5 separate regions of the Homo sapiens genome follow, and all the other regions are reported to be linked to region 5. The links are microRNA targets in miRTarBase. Many come from high-throughput screens and were not tested one by one. Region 5 holds a microRNA gene; each other region holds the end of a gene's coding sequence. Distances are between the middles of the regions.
Evidence for each region. The annotated mature microRNA hsa-miR-6878-3p reads CUGGCCUCUUCUUUCUCCUAG and lies in region 5 at 822-842, shown strand. An mRNA with a match to its seed (bases 2 to 7 or 8) in the 3' UTR can be bound and repressed. Matches are read on the target gene's strand: a 7mer-m8 pairs with bases 2 to 8, a 7mer-A1 pairs with bases 2 to 7 and ends in A, and an 8mer does both.

Region 1: the mRNA of MRTO4 is a reported target of hsa-miR-6878-3p. The part of its 3' UTR that is shown has no 7-base or 8-base seed match.
Region 2: the mRNA of SLC38A5 is a reported target of hsa-miR-6878-3p. Seed matches in the 3' UTR shown: 7mer-m8 at 2,541-2,547.
Region 3: miRTarBase lists FAM221B as a target of hsa-miR-6878-3p. Seed matches in the 3' UTR shown: 7mer-m8 at 978-984, 7mer-A1 at 1,231-1,237 and 7mer-m8 at 2,068-2,074.
Region 4: miRTarBase lists CCDC125 as a target of hsa-miR-6878-3p. Seed matches in the 3' UTR shown: 8mer at 906-913.

What each region holds. Positions count from the first base shown.
Region 1 is chr1:19,258,659-19,261,658 of GRCh38, forward strand. It overlaps MRTO4 (MRT4 homolog, ribosome maturation factor), which reads left to right. Exons shown (of 8, transcript NM_016183.4): 8 at 23-1,470. The coding sequence ends at 172. Among named protein-coding and RNA genes, the nearest start is that of MRTO4, 8.4 kb to the left of the region's middle.
Region 2 is chrX:48,456,116-48,459,115 of GRCh38, forward strand. It overlaps SLC38A5 (solute carrier family 38 member 5), which reads right to left. Exons shown (of 17, transcript NM_033518.4): 17 at 2,429-2,919. The coding sequence ends at 2,818. Among named protein-coding and RNA genes, the nearest start is that of SLC38A5, 13 kb to the right of the region's middle.
Region 3 is chr9:35,815,947-35,818,946 of GRCh38, reverse strand. FAM221B (family with sequence similarity 221 member B) reads left to right here. Exons shown (of 7, transcript NM_001012446.4): 6 at 1-57; 7 at 441-2,556. The coding sequence ends at 478. Among named protein-coding and RNA genes, the nearest start is that of HINT2, 2.4 kb to the right of the region's middle.
Region 4 is chr5:69,280,054-69,283,053 of GRCh38, reverse strand. CCDC125 (coiled-coil domain containing 125) reads left to right here. Exons shown (of 12, transcript NM_176816.5): 12 at 20-2,879. The coding sequence ends at 325. Among named protein-coding and RNA genes, the nearest start is that of CDK7, 47 kb to the right of the region's middle.
Region 5 is chr1:150,491,569-150,495,638 of GRCh38, forward strand. MIR6878 (microRNA 6878) reads left to right here and starts at 777; the gene lies at 777-842. It overlaps TARS2 (threonyl-tRNA synthetase 2, mitochondrial), which reads left to right. Exons shown (of 18, transcript NM_025150.5): 6 at 30-94; 7 at 843-921.

The DNA of each region.
Region 1 (3,000 bases), 130 Mb from region 5:
TTGTTCCCTTTGTCTCTTGCAGAAGCTTTTTGGGTATGAGATGGCTGAATTCAAGGTGACCATCAAATACATGTGGGATTCACAGTCGGGAAGGTTCCAGCAGATGGGAGACGACTTGCCAGAGAGCGCATCTGAGTCCACAGAAGAGTCAGACTCAGAAGATGATGACTGAAAGGGACTCGGGACTGAAGGTCTCCTGGAAGCTTCTGGGTCTCACTGGACCATCAGGACTGCTGCCGCCCCTCTGGAGAGAGCAGCTTTTTATTTGTCTGTAGACAGGGAACATGATGGGCACTGACCTCCTGTAAAGAATAAAACTGTGGGCCGGGCGCGGTGGCTCACGCCTGGAATCCCAGCACTTTGGGAAGCCGAGGTGGGCAGATCATAAGGTCGGGAGATTAAGACCATCCTGGCTAACACGGTGAAACCCCGTCTCTACTAAAAATAGAAAAAAAAACTAGTTGGGCATAGTGGCATGTGCCTGTAGTCCCAGCTACTCAGGAGGCTGAGGCAGGAGAATCACTTGAACCCGGGAGGTGGAGGTTGCCGTGAGTTGAGATTGGACCACTGCTCTCCAGCCTGGGCAACAGAGTAAAACTCTGTCCCAAAAAAAAAAAAAGAATACAACCTTGCAGGATGTCTCTCCTGGAGACAGCAAGAGGGAGAGGAGGGAGAGGGCTCTTTCTTAGAAAAGAGGCCTTTGGTGAGCCCAGAAGTTTGAAACCAGCCTGGGCAATTCAGCAAGATCCCGTCTCTACAAAAAATAAAAAAAAATTAGTCGTGGTGCCACTTGCCTGTGGTCCCCACTGCTTGGGAGGCTGAGGTGGGAGAATTGCTTAAGCCTGAGAGTTGGAGGCTCAGTGAGCCATGATCATGCCACTGCACTCCAGCCTGGGTGGCCATTGAATTCTGCGTGGATTGCCTCAGTTTGCCTTGTCAGCCAACTTCCACTGGCTGCCTTGGCACTGCCATGACAGCACAGCTCCACACCAGAGCTGGGGTTTCTCTTCAGTCCTGGGTACCCCTTGGCAGAGGGATTTGCTGAGGAAAATTAGGTATCCTTCCTAGCCCTCCACACACTTCCAAACCAGGGCTGCGGATCTGATGGATGCCAGGAAGACAGCCTTGGGCTGAGAGTGACATCACTGCAAGAGTTGAGAGCCAGCGTCTAAAGTGTCCACGGCATCCTGGGAGGTTTTATCCTTGGTGACTCTAATGGTAGATTTTTGTCCACCTTGTTCTATTTGCTTTTGTTTGTTTTTGATTTTTCTGTTTTAAAATTTTAAGGAGAGATGGGGTTTCACCATGTTGCCCAGGCTGGTCTCAAACTCCTGAGCTCAAGCGATCTACCCACCTTGGCCTCCCAAAGTGCTGGGATTATAGGTGTGAGCCACCGCATCCAGCCCACATTGTTCTATTTGTATTTCATGAAAGCAGTTCTGAATGAGAGTAAATCAGCTTCAGGGTGTACAGTGGCCCTCTTTTTTCTGCCATGCATGGAAGAGGGCCACCTCCAGCCCTGCTGTTGGGAGGTCAGGCTGGGTCCCACGGTGTGGGGTGACCTTCACAACGGCATTGTGCCTCTGACACCCTCTCAGTGCCTCTGTTCTTTGGAGACTTCCTACTCCCGCCCACTTCTCACCACGCCCTTGGGAAGGACAGCAGGAAGCAGGCTTCGGGCAGAAGAGGAATTCACCATGTTCACCCAGGCCTAGGCCAGGTCAAGCACCAGCCTCAGCAGGAAGTGCTGAAGGAGAGCTCAGGCCCGGCCCTCTCGCCTTGTGAGGATGACTGGGAAGACTGCACGAGTGTAGGGGAGGATCTGCAAACCGGGCTGAGAGGGGAAAGCAGCCTACAACCATTTAAGGCCAAAACTGGCCAGGGGGAGAGAATGAAGGGTGGCAGGTGGTGCCCTCCGCACCTGAGCCAGGTCTAGCCAGACCTGGAGGAGGTAGTGGGATGGTCAGGTGCCAGGCTTGGTCGGCGGCCTCTGTGACAGCCGAGTCCAGGGTCCCTTTGCTGCTGCCAGTTTCTCCAATTGCTCCATCCAGGATGACCACGTCCCTATGCATGCCCTGTAAGGGAGACAGCTAGACTTCAACACATTTCTGCTGCACAGTGACTAATCATGCCCCTCCCAGCCATGGCCCCGCCGCTAACTGGGCTCTGGTTATTCACGTATGCCTTGCATTACTGCTTGCAAACAGCCATGACCGTTGGGCTTTAAAGCCCTGCCTCCACGCTGTCTCAGCTTTAGACAGCTGACTTCAGAGCCACTCATCTGCTGCTCAGCAGCTGGGTAAACCCAGGTCAGTCACCCAGCCTTTCAGCTTCAGACTTCAGGCCGCTTGTCTGAATTAGAAATTGTGTGAAGCACTTTGCCTGCAGACCAGGCACGTAACGTGCTCACTAAAGGGAAGCCATAACCATATAATACCCAAGCTGGAGAAGGGGGTTAGGGACAGCAGGGAGAGGGAAACCCTGCCACTACACACAGGGTTGGGCTGTCTCCAGGGTGGGCAGCCAAGGAGCCAGGAAAAGCTAATGGTTAAAAATGTAGGTTTCAGACCAGATGCAGTGGCTTGCACCTGTAATCCTAGCAATTTGGAATGCTGAGGTGGGCGGATTGCTTGAGCCCAAAGACTCAAGATCAGCCCAGGCTCAGGCCGGGCACGGTGGCTCATGCCTGTAATCCCAGCCCTTTGGGAGGCCGAGGCAGGCGGATTACGAGGTCAGGAGATGGAGACCATCCTGGCTAACACGGTGAAACCCCGTCTCTACTAAAAATACAAAAAATTAGCTGGGCATGGTGACGGGCGCCTGTAGTCCCAGCTACTCGGGAGGCTGAGGCAGGAGAATGGCTTGAACCTGGGAGGCGGAGCTTGCAGTGAGCCGAGATCACAGCACTACACTCAGCCTGGGTGACAGAGCTAGACTCTGTCTCAAAAAAAAAAAAAAGATCAGCCCAGGCAATGTAGTGAGACCCCTGTCTCTACAAAA
Region 2 (3,000 bases), not on the chromosome of region 5:
AATAAAATAAAATAAAATAAGCCGGGTGTGGTGGCATATGCCTGTGGTCCCAGCTACTTGGGAGGCTGAGGTAAGAGAATCACTTGAACCCGGGAAGTTGAGGTTGCAGTGAGCTGTGATCTCACTACTGTACTCCAGGCTGGATGACAGTGAAACCCTGCCAAAAAAAAAAAAAAAAAACCTTATTTCATAAATACGGCTCATGCCTGTAATCCGAGCACTTTGGGAGGCCAAGGTGGGAGGATCACTTGAGCCCAAGAGTTTGAGACCAGCCTAGGCAACATAGAGAGATCTCATTTCTACTGAAAATTTTAAAAATTATCCAGGCATAGTGGCGCATGCCTGTAGTCCCAGCTACTCAGAAGGCTGAGGCAGGAGGATAGCTTGAGCCTGGGAGGCTAAAGCTTCAGTGAGCCGTGATGGCACCACTGCACTCCAGCCTGGATGACAGAGCAAGACCCTGTCTCAAAAACAGTTAAAAATTAAAAATTAAAGAATTAGAAATACACACACACACACACACACACACACACACACACGTATGTGAAGTGTAATGGCAATACCATTTTTTCTATGAGGTTGACAAAAATCTGTTGCATTGCTCAGGCTGTTGACAAGGCTGTGGTGAAAATGGCACTCACATACTCATGCTAGCTTCTCCTTGCTCTTGCTTGGACCAGCCATGCTCGTTCCTACCTCGGGGCCCTTGCACCTGTTGCTCCCTCTGCCTGGAACACCCTTTGCCAAAATAACCATGAGGCTTGCTCCTTTCAGCCAACCTAGGACCAAATTCATTGCCCCCTCCTTAGTGAAGTCTCGCTGAATGCCTCCTCACCCACCACCTCCCCACACCACTCTCACATCGCTCATTTTCTTCATTGCACCATCTTTATGAGGAATGATTTCTCTTTTATTCTCTTTGTTAGGTCAGAGGTCAGCTAACATTTTCTGAAAAGGGCCAGAGAGTTAATAGCTCAGGCTTTGCAGGCCATATGGTCTCTGTTGCAAATCCTCAGCTCTGCACGAGAAAGCCACAAACAATATGTAAATGAAGAAGACACTGTAAATGATATGTAAATAATTTAGACACTGAAATTGATATGTAAATGATTTAGACACTGAAATTTGAATTTCACATAATTTCCAAGTGTCACAGAATATTATTTCTTTTAATAATATTTTTTCATTTTCTTTTCTTTTTTTTGAGACAGAGGCTGGAGTGCAGTGGTGAGATCTTGGCTCACTGCAACCTCTGACTCCCAAGTTCAAGCGATTCTCCTGCCTCAGCCTCCTGAGTAGCTGGGATTACAGGCGCGTGCCACCATGCCTGGCTGATTTTTGTATTTTTAGTAGAAACGGGGTTTCACCACGTTGGCCAGGCTGGTCTAGAACTCCTTACCTCAGGTGATCTGCCCGCGTCGGCCTCCCAAAGTGCTAGGATTACAGGCATGAGCCACCACACCCAGCCCCTTTTCTTTTTGAGACAGGGTCTCACTCTGTCACTCAGGCTAGAGTGCAGTGGCGTGATCATAGCTCACTGCACCCTCAATCTCCCGGGCTGAAGCGATCCTCCCACCTCAGTCTCCCAAGTAGCTGGGACTATAGGCTTGCACTATCACACCCGGCTATTTCTTTTAATATTTTTTGTAGAGATGGGGTCTTGCCGTGTTGCCCAGGCTGCTCTCAAATGATCCTCCTGCCTCAGACTCCCAAAGTGCTGGTGATTACAGGCATAAGCCACCATGCTGGATCCACCTTTTTTCAATCATTTAGAAATATGAAAGCCAGTCTTAGTTCAAGGGCCATACCAAAATAGGCAGCAGGATGGATTTGCCCACTCGTGTGTCAGAACATCAACTCCAGGGCACTATTGTCTGCTTGGTTCACTGCTATATCCCCAGCACCTAGAATAGTGCCTGGCACCCAGTAGGCTTTCAGGAGATGTTTACCGAGTGAATGAGTGAAGTCTTTTTCTGTGTGTGAGATGGAGTCTCACTCTGTCGCCCAGGCTGGAGTACAGTGGCACAATCTCGGCTCACTGCAACCTCCGCCTCCTGGGTTCAAGCGATTCTCCCGCCTTAGCCTCCCAAGTAGCTGGGACTATAGCGTGCACCACCACACCCAGTTAATTTTAGTATTTTTTAGTAGAGACGGGGTTTTGCCATGGTGGCCAGGCTGGTCTCAAACTTGTGATTTCAAGTGATCCGCCGGCCTCAACCTCCCAAAGTGCTGGGATTACAGGCGTGAGTCACTGCTCCTGGCCAAGTGGGTGAAATATTAAGTTGAGTAGCAAGTTACTGAAAGAGTGAAGTGAATGAATGCATGATCAGGCACAGTCCCACTCGCAGGGCTTCAGTTTGCTCCAGCCTGGACTCCGGCAGGCTCCCCCAGCAAGACTAAGAGAAAGATCAGAAGGCTGAGTCCAGAGTGGTAGCTCAACATCTTTATTTTTCCTCTTTAGCCCGAGGGTAATCCTGACAAACAGCTTCAGCCAGGAGGAGGCAGAGAGGACTGGGCTGGGCAAAGGCTCCACCAGGACCTGGCCTCCTCCTCCTCCTCCTCCTCCTCCTCCTCCTCCTCTTCTTCCTCCTCCTCCTCCTCCCATGGGGTTGGGGTTGGGATTAGGGCCATGATCCAAGCTTGGCATCCCTGGGGAGGAGGGAAGTGGGCCAGTCTGCAGCCTCTGCTGTCCCCCGCCTCTGACAACCACGTTCATGGGAACCAGCCACCTCCACATGTTGGGCAGGAGGGACCCTAGGGAGCGGCCCTGACCCCTCCATGTGCATGCGCACAGGGACCTGGGCCAGCAGGGCCTGATCAGTGTCCAGACATGCGGCTCTGGCCTGTGGCCCAGTTGGCAAACATAAAGCCTAGACTGACGGCCATGAAGAGGACTCCCAGGACTCCAAAGCACAGGGCCTGTGGGCCAGAGAGACAAGATGGGGCTGGTTGGGACTCCTCACCCAGTTGCCTTCTGAGAATGTTCCTCAAGTCTTCCAC
Region 3 (3,000 bases), not on the chromosome of region 5:
AACACGAGACTTTCTTTGACACCCAGAAGACCCGGCAACGAGGAGGAAGGCCTCGCGGTGAGGCAGAAACCTGGGACAGGGGGCCATTCCAGGGTCTGTAGTCAGAAGGCCAGGCAGGAAGGCACTCCCATCCTCAACCATCCCTTCCAGGACTAGCGCGCTCCCTCAGCCCACCTCCCCACCACCCACCTACCTGCATCCCACATCTGCACTGGTTTTCACCCCCAGGAGCAGACTATGTACCTTTTGCAGAGATGGCTGTGCTCCGAGAAGCCATCCTCAGCAACTCTGACTTCTAGGCCCTGCAGATACAGGGGCCCTCTGGCCTTCCCAGCTCCCACCCTAGTCCCCCGGGGCTCCCTGGTTCACACGGTCTCCAGCCTGGCCTCCCTTCTGACCCCCATACCTGACCCTTTCACCTCTGCTCTTTCTTCCTCCAGGGACAGACACTGTCAGCAACTGGCACAGGCCTTTGTGAGTCTGGCCCAGATCAGCAATAAAAGAGGAGTCATTGGAACCTGACTTGGCTCTATATGGGGCAGGTAGATCCCAGCCCAGGGAGAGACTGCCTAATAACTTAGAGTTGACACCTATTAGACACAGGAGAAAGCCTGGATCTGGCCATCTGCCTCCATCACACTCACATTCAAGCTGCCTGTTGAAGGAAAGTGGCTTCAAGGAAGTCAAGAAGGGAGGAAGTTTCAAGAAGGATAGAGTGGGAAGTGATGTTAGATGCAGTTGGGGCACCAATAAGATAAAGACTGAAAAGTGTCCATTGGGTTTTGCAATTAGAAGATCTTTGGGAACATCGGAGAGTGCAGTTTCACACTGGTGCAGTGGAGGCAGGAGTCAAACAGCAGTGAGTTTCAAGGAGTCTCTTAAAGAAGCTTGGATGAAAAGTACAAAAGTAAAGTCAGACAATATCCAGAGGGAGTTGTGGAGTCAAGGAAGTACTTTTGTAGGAAGGAAAAGGGGAAGAGGCCAGTAGACTAAAGGACCTTGAAGGACCCAGAAGAGAGAGAAGAGATGCCTGGTGAGACAAGATCCCAGAGATGGAGGAAAGGGATGAGGTCAAAGCAGAGGTGAAGGGATTTTCTCTGGACAGGAGAAACACCACTTCCTATGACCAAGACGAAGGAAGAGGATGGAGCCTTCCTAGAGTTTCAGGGAACAAGAACCTGTGGAAGTTCCCCTCTGATGGCTTCTATATGCCCTGTGAAGTAGGAGATAAGGCCAATGGCTGGGGTCCAGGGGAAGAGGGATAAGAGTAGGGAGCAGGAGACAAGAAGAGAAAGGGGAAGGTTTGGGAAGGCTAATGTAGGGAACTGGAGAAAAACCTCATCAGTGGGTAGTTCAGGATTCGGGCACAGTTGGAAGTGAGAACCTAGTTAGAGAAGCAGAGAATCCAAATATTTAATGGGTTGATGATGTGAGGGTGTCAGGGAGGAAGATCAGGAAAACTAAGCAAAAGAAGGCATGAGGATGTGAAGGGAGCATACAGCACCAATAGGGAAAGAAAGTGATGCCAGGAGGCAAATGACAGATTGAAAAAGGGAGCAGTCAAAGGAAGAGAAGTCTCTAATGAGGTACAGTAGCAGACGTAGGGGCAGGGGTTGGAGTACAAGAGACAGTGTTCAGAGGCTGCAGAGCATAACATCTTTCAGATGAGGGCAAGTGAAGGTGATAAGTGCTTGAAGTAGAGAAAACTGTGGGCCAAGGATCAAAATCAGTGAATGTGGGAAGTCACAAGGGAGTCCATAGGTTCTTATGGGAGTAGGAGATTCCAGCACTAATGGGCTCTGTGAACCCAGGCAAGTCACTGTCCCTCTTTAGGCTGAGTTTCTGGACCTGTAAAACAGGAATAACCTCTGTGTTGCCTACTTTCTATGAGAACCAAAGAAATAACTAATTTCAAAGTGCTTTGTATCCACCTATCCTCCAGACTGGCTTCCTTCCTCTTCCTAGATCCCAGATCCACTTATCTCTCGCCCTTCTCCAGGGCAACTCTAGGGTCTCCCAGTGTCCCAGAGGCACCACAGAGAACTGCAGCCTCTGGGGCCCAGAGAAGAGGCCATTCTACATTTCCTCACAATTAGGGGGGCCATCTGTTCCTCCAAGGGAAGGAATGCAATCTGGACTGCTAGGATCCCTGGGGAAAATCACAGAATCAAATGTCTGCCCTTTAGAGGAGAAAGGATTTTCTAACAATAATATAGCTATACAAAAGAGATTGTTATATCTCTAGAAGCAAAGTTCCCCAACAGTGGTTATATGCCCCATGATAACCATTCACCTAAAACTAATTCAACTAATAGTCAACAATAGAGTTAGGATTACTATGATAAACTCATTGAAGGAAATAATAAGCAGCCAATACAAACTATATTTACGTAGACTGTAAAAATATGAAAAATTGATTACACATGGGTTAGTATCATATGCAATACATATTACATATTATGAAAAAAAGACAGGAAACACCAAATGTTATTCATTCAACAATTACTGACCACCTATATGTATCAGGTCATGTGTTTAAAAAAAAAAAAAAGAAAAAAAGAAAAACCAAAGAAACAGTGGTAACTTGTCCTATGTGATATCAGACTAAAACTTACCTAGCGTCTGAGAATATTAGTATTTTGTGACCCCACGTTTCTTATGTCAAAAATATATATTCCAGCAGTGCAAACCTGACTTATTGGTGCCTCATACCTGTAATCCCAGCACCTTGGGAGGCCGAGGCAGGAGGATCACGAGGTCAGGAGATCGAGACCATCCTGGCTAACACGGTGAAACCCCGTCTCTAATAAAAATACAAAAAATTAGCCGGGCGTGGTGGCGGGTGCCTGTAGTCCCAGCTACTCGGGAGGCTGAGGCAGGAGAATGGCGTGAACTCGGGAGGCGGAGCTTGCAGTGAGCCGAGATCGCGCCACTGCACTCCAGCCTGGGCGACAGAGCGAGACTCCGTCTCAAAAAAAAAAAAAAAGAAAAAAGAAAAAA
Region 4 (3,000 bases), not on the chromosome of region 5:
TTAATTTCTGTGCATGCAGCTTAATGATAAAGAAGAAGCTTTGGCTCATCAAAGAAAAGTTAGCTACATGCTTGCTCGGGCATTGGAAGACAAAGACACTGCTTCAAACGAGAATAAAGAAAAAAATCCTATAAAAGAGAATTTCCCTTTCAACAACCCCTGGCGTAAGACTTCAGAATTCTCTGTTTTGGGTGATCCTATACATTCAAGTGTCTGCATTTTAAATTCTGTGGGCTGCATTTGTTCAATCCAGCACTCTCAAATAGATCCAAACTATAGAACTCTTAAAAGATCCCATTCTTTGCCATCAAGTATCATATTTTAAAGACAAGCCAGTTGAAATTGGAACTGAGAGTTGTTTATATCGAGATACTTTGAAAAATGATTTTGTAAATTTTGCTGCATCTTGAGAAGTTGTATGTTTCCTAGGTATTTCTAAATTTTAGGAGGTCACTTAAATCAAATATTTTCTACATTTTCTTTTTCTTCTTTTGAGATGGAGTCTTGCTCTGTCACCCAGGTTGGAGTGCAGTGGTGTGATCTCGGTTCACTGCAACCTCCGCCTCCCGGTTCAAGCAATTCTCCTGCCTCAGCCTCCCGAGTAACTCGGATTACAGGCATGTGCCACCACGCCCAGCTAATTTTTGTATTTTTAGTAGAGACGGGGTTTTACCATGTTAGCCAGGCTGATCTTGAACTCCTGACCTCAAGTGATCCGCCTGCCTTGGCCTCCGAAAGTGCTGGGATTACAGGCGTGAGCCACCACACCCAGCCTATTTTCTACATTTTCTACAAGAAATTAGTATTCTGTGTTGACATTTTATTTATAAATTACATTACTGTATTTATAAATTACATTACAGGCTGGGCATGGTGGCTCATGCTTATAAATCCCAGCACTTTGGGAGGCCAAGGTGGGTGGGTCACCTGAGGCTGGAGTTCAAGACCAGTCTGACCAACATGGAGAAACCCCATCTCTACTAAAAATACAAAAAATTAGCTAGGCCTAGTGGCGCATGCCTGTAATCCCAGCTACTTGGGAGGCTGAGGTAGGAGAATCGCTTGAACCTGGGAGGCGGGGGTTGTGGTAAGCCGAGACTGTGTCATTGCACTCCAGCCTGGGCGACAAGAGCGAAACTCTGTCTCAAAAAAAAAAAAAAACACATTACAGTGTTTGCCAACATCCTAAAACAAAAAATAATGATTTTTGGGAAAAACAAAAAATTATTTAACTATTTTGATTGACTATAGGGATCTTAGCTTGGCTAAATCAACAATATAGCAATGTATCTTAATGCTCTAAAAAGTAACAATACCTAGGACTGACTGAATGTTAATTTCTGGAATTCATTTATCTTGTTTTATTTGCCTTGTTCAGTATTTTTCATTTACCATATGAAGTTTAGAAATAACAATTTCCTTAAGTTAACTTCAATAAGACAGTTTTGATGGTGGGACCTTGGCAGAAGTATATTGAGTCAGTGCCGGCTGCGTTCATGGCTTCTTGTCAGGGTAGTAACATTTTGCAACCAAATCTGCACAGATTTGTAGCCAAGTCTACAAAGTGCTTAACAGCTCTTTTCATTGCATCCTGTGAGATGGTTGTGATGATCCAGGAAATGGGGTCTCAGGAATCTGAAGAAGCTGCCTGAGCCAAGGTGATTTCTAGGAGTTTTTTTGTTTGTGGTATGTGAATTGGGGTGTGTGGGGGTGGGGTGTGTGTGTAGACAGGGTCCCACTGTGTTGCTCAGGCTGGTGCCAAACTCCTGGCCTCAAGGGATCCTCCTGCCTCAGCCTCTCAAAGTGCTGGGATTACAGGCATAAACCACAACTCAATAAAAAAGTTTTTAAAAATTTACAAAGCTCATATTTGATCCAGCTAGGATTTTACCCTGTACATTTGTATTTCTTGTAGGCTGGCGCACAGATATCTTAAATGGCTACTAATTGCTGCTGTGTATGAAAACAAATGGCTATCAAGGCCGGGTGCAGTGGCTTACAGATCTGGTCTGAATCTCAAGTCCAGACCAGTCCAGAGTTCAAGACCAGCCTGGGCAACATGGTGAAACCCCATCTATACAAAAACTCGGCAAGGCATGGTGGCATGCACCTGTTGTCCCAGCTACTCAGGGGCTGAGGCAGGAGGATGGCATGAGCCCAGGAGCTTGAGGCTGCAGTGAGCTGTGATTGTGCCACTGCACTCCAGCCTGAGTGACAGAGTGAGACCCCCATCTCCAAAAGAAAAGGCTATCAATACAAAAGTTTATCTAAATTACTGTACAGCTATACAATGGAATACTCTACAAAATGGAGAGATCCATAAGATAAAGCAAATGAATAAAGCAAAATGCATGTGTTGACAGCTGTTGTGATACCTCAGTTCTTGTCTTCTTGGTTTAAAAGAATTTAAATGAGACAGCAAAGGAGATGCAGCATAATTTATTGCAAAAGAAAAGGAGTATTTTGAAAGTTAGGTGCAGAACAGACAGTACACCTGAGAGAGAGAATTCAGGGCCGGCTGCTCGTAAGGGTGAGACAGCATTGATTATTGCTGGAGAAACTCCCTTTATGGGAGTTTTGCATTATTATTCATAAGGAGGTGAGGTGTTGCAGTAATCATGTCCTGGGTGGTCCTCTGCACAGGTGCAGTAGCTGTTAATGCTTGTTCATACACCACATGTCTCAGTAGCATCTTAAATTTCCACCTAGAGGTGTGTTTTTTATTATTATCATGTGCAAAGGATCAGTTTGAGGACAGGTAAAATCAAAATGTGTATGCTCTCTAGAAGGGAAAGTCCCTACTGAAGATAGCTTTGCTTAAATGAGCTCAATTACAATGTGAATGCTGAGGTTTATTGTGTTGGCTGTATGGTCATGAGAAAATGGTCATTTCCTTGACTACCTGATACGGTTTGGCTGTGTCCCCACCCAAGTCTTATTTTGAATTGTAATCCCCATAATTCCCACATGTTGAAGGAGGGACTTGGTGGTAGGTGACTG
Region 5 (4,070 bases):
TCTTCAATCTCCCTTCTACCTTTTTCCAGGATAACCCCTTTAAGCTTCACTTGATTGAGGAGAAAGTGACAGGTCCAACAGCAACAGTATATGGGTAAGAGTTGTCAAGATTAAGGCAAACAGAGAGGTGGGGAAGCATTGAAGAAGGCCAGAAATGCGATAAGGGAAGAAAGATAGAAGGTAATTTGTGTTGCTCCAGAAAAAGAAATGGGAATGGGAATTGATTTTTTTTTTTTCTTTTTTTGAGACGGAGTCTTGGTCTGTCTCCCAGGCTGGAGTGCGGTAGCACGATCTCGGCTCACTGCAACCTCCGCCTCCTGGGTTCAAGTGATTCTCCTGCCTTAGCCTCCAGAGTGGCTGGGATTACAGGCATGTGCCACCATGCCTGGCTAGTTTTTTTTTTTTTTTTTTTTTTTGAGATGAAGTCTTGTTCTGTCACCCAGGCTGGAATGCAGTGGCGCGATCTCGGCTCACTGCATCTCTGCCTCCCGGGTTCAAACAATTCTTCTGCCTCAGCCTCCCGAGTAGCTGGAACTACAGGCATGCACCACCATGCCTAGCTAATTTTTATATTTTTAGTAGAGACGGGGTTTCACCATATTGTCCAGGCTGGTCTCGAACTCCTGACCACGTGATCCACCCACCTTGGCCTCCCAAAGTTCTGGGATTATAGACATGAGCCACCGCGCCCTGCCAGGGAATTGATTTTTATCTGCCATTGCCCTCTCTCAGTAGGACAGTTCCTTTCTCTTCACCTCTTCTGTCAGCTAAAGACCATGAGAGGGAGAAAGCTAGAAGCTGAAGATTCTGAAAATCACTAACTGGCCTCTTCTTTCTCCTAGGTGTGGCACATTGGTTGACCTTTGCCAGGGCCCCCACCTTCGGCATACTGGACAGATTGGAGGACTGAAGCTGCTATCGGTCAGTTGTGGGACAGAGTTAGGTTAAGATTCCTATTTTGAGCCGGGCATGGTGGCTCACGCTTGTAATCCCAGCACTTTGGGAGGCTGAGGCAGATGGATCATAAAGTCAGGAGTTTGAGACCAGCCTGGCCAATATGGTGAAACCCCGTCTCTACTAAAAATACAAAAATTAGCTGGGTGTGGTGGCACACACCTGTAGTCCTAGCTGCTCGGGAGGCTGAGACAGGAGAGTTGCCTGAACCTGGGAGGCGGAGGTTGTAGTGAGCCGAGACTGCACTACTGCACTCCAGCCTGGGCAACAGAGCGAGAGTCCATCTCAAAAAAAAAAAAAAAAAAATTCCTGGTTTCACTGGGATGAGCAGGAGAATCGGAAGGTGATACTTTCTGTCGGCACCCCCCTTTTTTTTTTTTGAGACCAAGTCTCTCGGTCGCCCAGGCTGGAGTGCAGTGGCGCGATCTTGGCTCACTGCAAGCTTCGCCTCCTGGATTCAAGCAATTCTCCTGCTTCAGCCTCCCGAGTAGCTGGGATAATAGGTGTGCACCACCATGCCCAGCTACTTTTTGTATTTTTAGTAGAGACAGGGTTTCACCATGTTGGCCAGGGTGATCTCAAGTGATCTTCCCTTCTCAGCCTCCCAAAGTGCTGGGATTACAGGCATGAGCCACTGAGCCTGGCCCTGTACTCTCATAAGCTGAGCGGGGAATACAGGAGAAAGAAACTTTGTCCCCACATTCTAAAAACCCGTTTGATGGCACACACTGGACAGCCTGCTAGGGCCCAGAAGCCAATTCAGATGCCCTAATATGATGTCAGTATTAAGGGGGGTGGAGGGGTGGAGCAGGAGGGTGTGAGCAAGCTGGATGGGTCATACAGGGAAGGGTTGTAGAGAGAGGGGGCGTGGTCCAGGAGGAAGATGAACACCATTTGACAGGCACAGGGAAAATACCTTTAGTAAAGGGCATGCTTTTTATGAAAATACCGTTCTGCATGGTGGCTCACGCCTATAATCCCAGCACTTTGGGAAGCCGAGGTGGGTGGACCACCTGAGGTCGGGAGTTCAAGACCGGCCTGACCAACATGGAGAAACCCCGTCTCTACTAAAAATACAAAATTAACTGGGCGTGGTGGCACATGCCTGTAATCCCAGCTACTTGTGAGGCTGAGGCAGGAGAATCACTTGAACCTGGGAGGTGGAGGTTGTGGCGATCCAAGATCGTGCCATTGCACTCTAGCCTGGGCAACAAGAGCAAAACTCCGTCTCAAAAAAAAAAAAAAGAAAAGAAAATACTGTTCTGGACAAGAAGAGTTACTAGATGGAATGGGATGAGTTACAAGGGAGCAAGGGGAAATGCAGATGTGTAGAGCAAAAAGCTCTGAACTTAGACTGGGCATGGTGGCTCATGCCTATAATCCCAGCACTTTGGGAGGCCAAGGTGGGTGGATCACTTGAGATCAGCCTGGCCAACATGGCAAAACCCCATGGCGCGGTGGCCTTGGGTAAATCTTACTTATTTTCCCCATCTATAAAATGAGGCTATTAATTCCTTTTTGTCCTACCAGTAAATTCACCTCATAAAGATAATGAAAACCAGGCCAGGCATGGTGGCTCACACCTGTAATCCCAGCACTTTGGGGAGGGTGAGGCAGGCGGATCACTTGAGGTCAGGAGTTCGAGACCAGCCTGGCCAACATGGTGAAACCCTGTCTCTACTAAAAATACACAAATTAGCTGGGTGTGCTGGCCTACGCCTGTAATCCCAGCTACAAAAAAGGCTGAGGCAGGAGAGTCACTTGAACTCTGCCAGGAGGCAGAGGTTGCAGTGAGCTGAGATTGTGCCACTGCATTCCAGCCTGGGCCACGGAGCGAGACAACATCTCAAAAAAAAAAAAAAAAAAAAAGATAATGAAAACCAACTAATTCAGGAAAAAGGAAAAGTTAAAAAGTGCTGTAAAATACAGACTGTCGGCCAGGTGCGGTGGTTCACACGTGTAATCCCAACACTTTGGGAGGCCAAGTTGGGCGGATCACTTGAGCTCAGGAGTTCAAGACCAGCCTGGCCAACATGGTGAAACCTCGTCACTACTAAAAATAAAAAATTAGCTGGGCGTGGTGGCATGCACCTGTAGTCCCAGCTACTCGGGAGGCTGAGGCAGGAGAATTGCTTGAACTGGGAGGCAGAGGTTGCAGTGAGCCAAGATTGCACCACTGCACTCCAGCCTGGGCAACAGAGTGAGACTCTGTTTCAAAAAATATACATATAGGGGCTGGGCGTGGTGGCTCACGCCTGTAATCCTAACACTTTGGGAGGCTGAGGCGAGTGAATCACGAGGTCCAGAGATCGAGACCATCCTGGCTAACACCGTGAAACCCCGTCTCTACTAAAAATACAAAAAATTAGCCAGGTGTGGCCGGGCGCAGTGGCTCACGCCTGTAATCCCATCACTTTGGGAGGCTGAGGCAGGCGGATCATGAGGTCAGGAGATCGAGACCATCCTGGCTAACACGGTGAAACCCTGTCTACTAAAAATACAAAAAATTAGCTGGGCGAGGTGGCGGGCGCCTGTAGTCCCAGCTACTTGGGAGGCTGAGGCAGGAGAATGGCGTGAACCCTGGGGGGTGGAGCCTGCAGTGAGCCAAGATCACGCCACTGCACTCCAGCCTGGGCGACAGCGAGACTCCGTCTCAAAAAAAGAAAAAAAAAATTAGTCGAGTGTGGTGGTGGTGGCCTGTAGTCCCAGCTACTTGGGAGGCTGAGGCAGGAGAATGGCGTGAACCTGGGAGGCGGAGCTTGCAGTGAGCCGAGATCGCGCCACTGCACTCCAGCCTGGGTGACAGATGTATATACACACACACACACACGTATAGACTGTTTCTCATTAGTACTGTTTAACAGTTTTATTTTATTTCATTTTTATTTTTTTGAGACAGAGTCTTGCTCTGTTGCCCAGGCTGGAGTGCAGTGGCCTGATCTCGGCTCACTGCAACCTCTGCCTGCCAGGTTCAAGCAATTCTCCTGCCTCAGCCTCCTGAGTAGCTGGGTTACAGGCACGTGCCACCACACCTGGCTAATTTTTGTATTTTTAGTACAGACAAGGTTTCACCATGTTGGTCAGGCTGGTCTTGAACTCTTGACCTTGTGATCCAC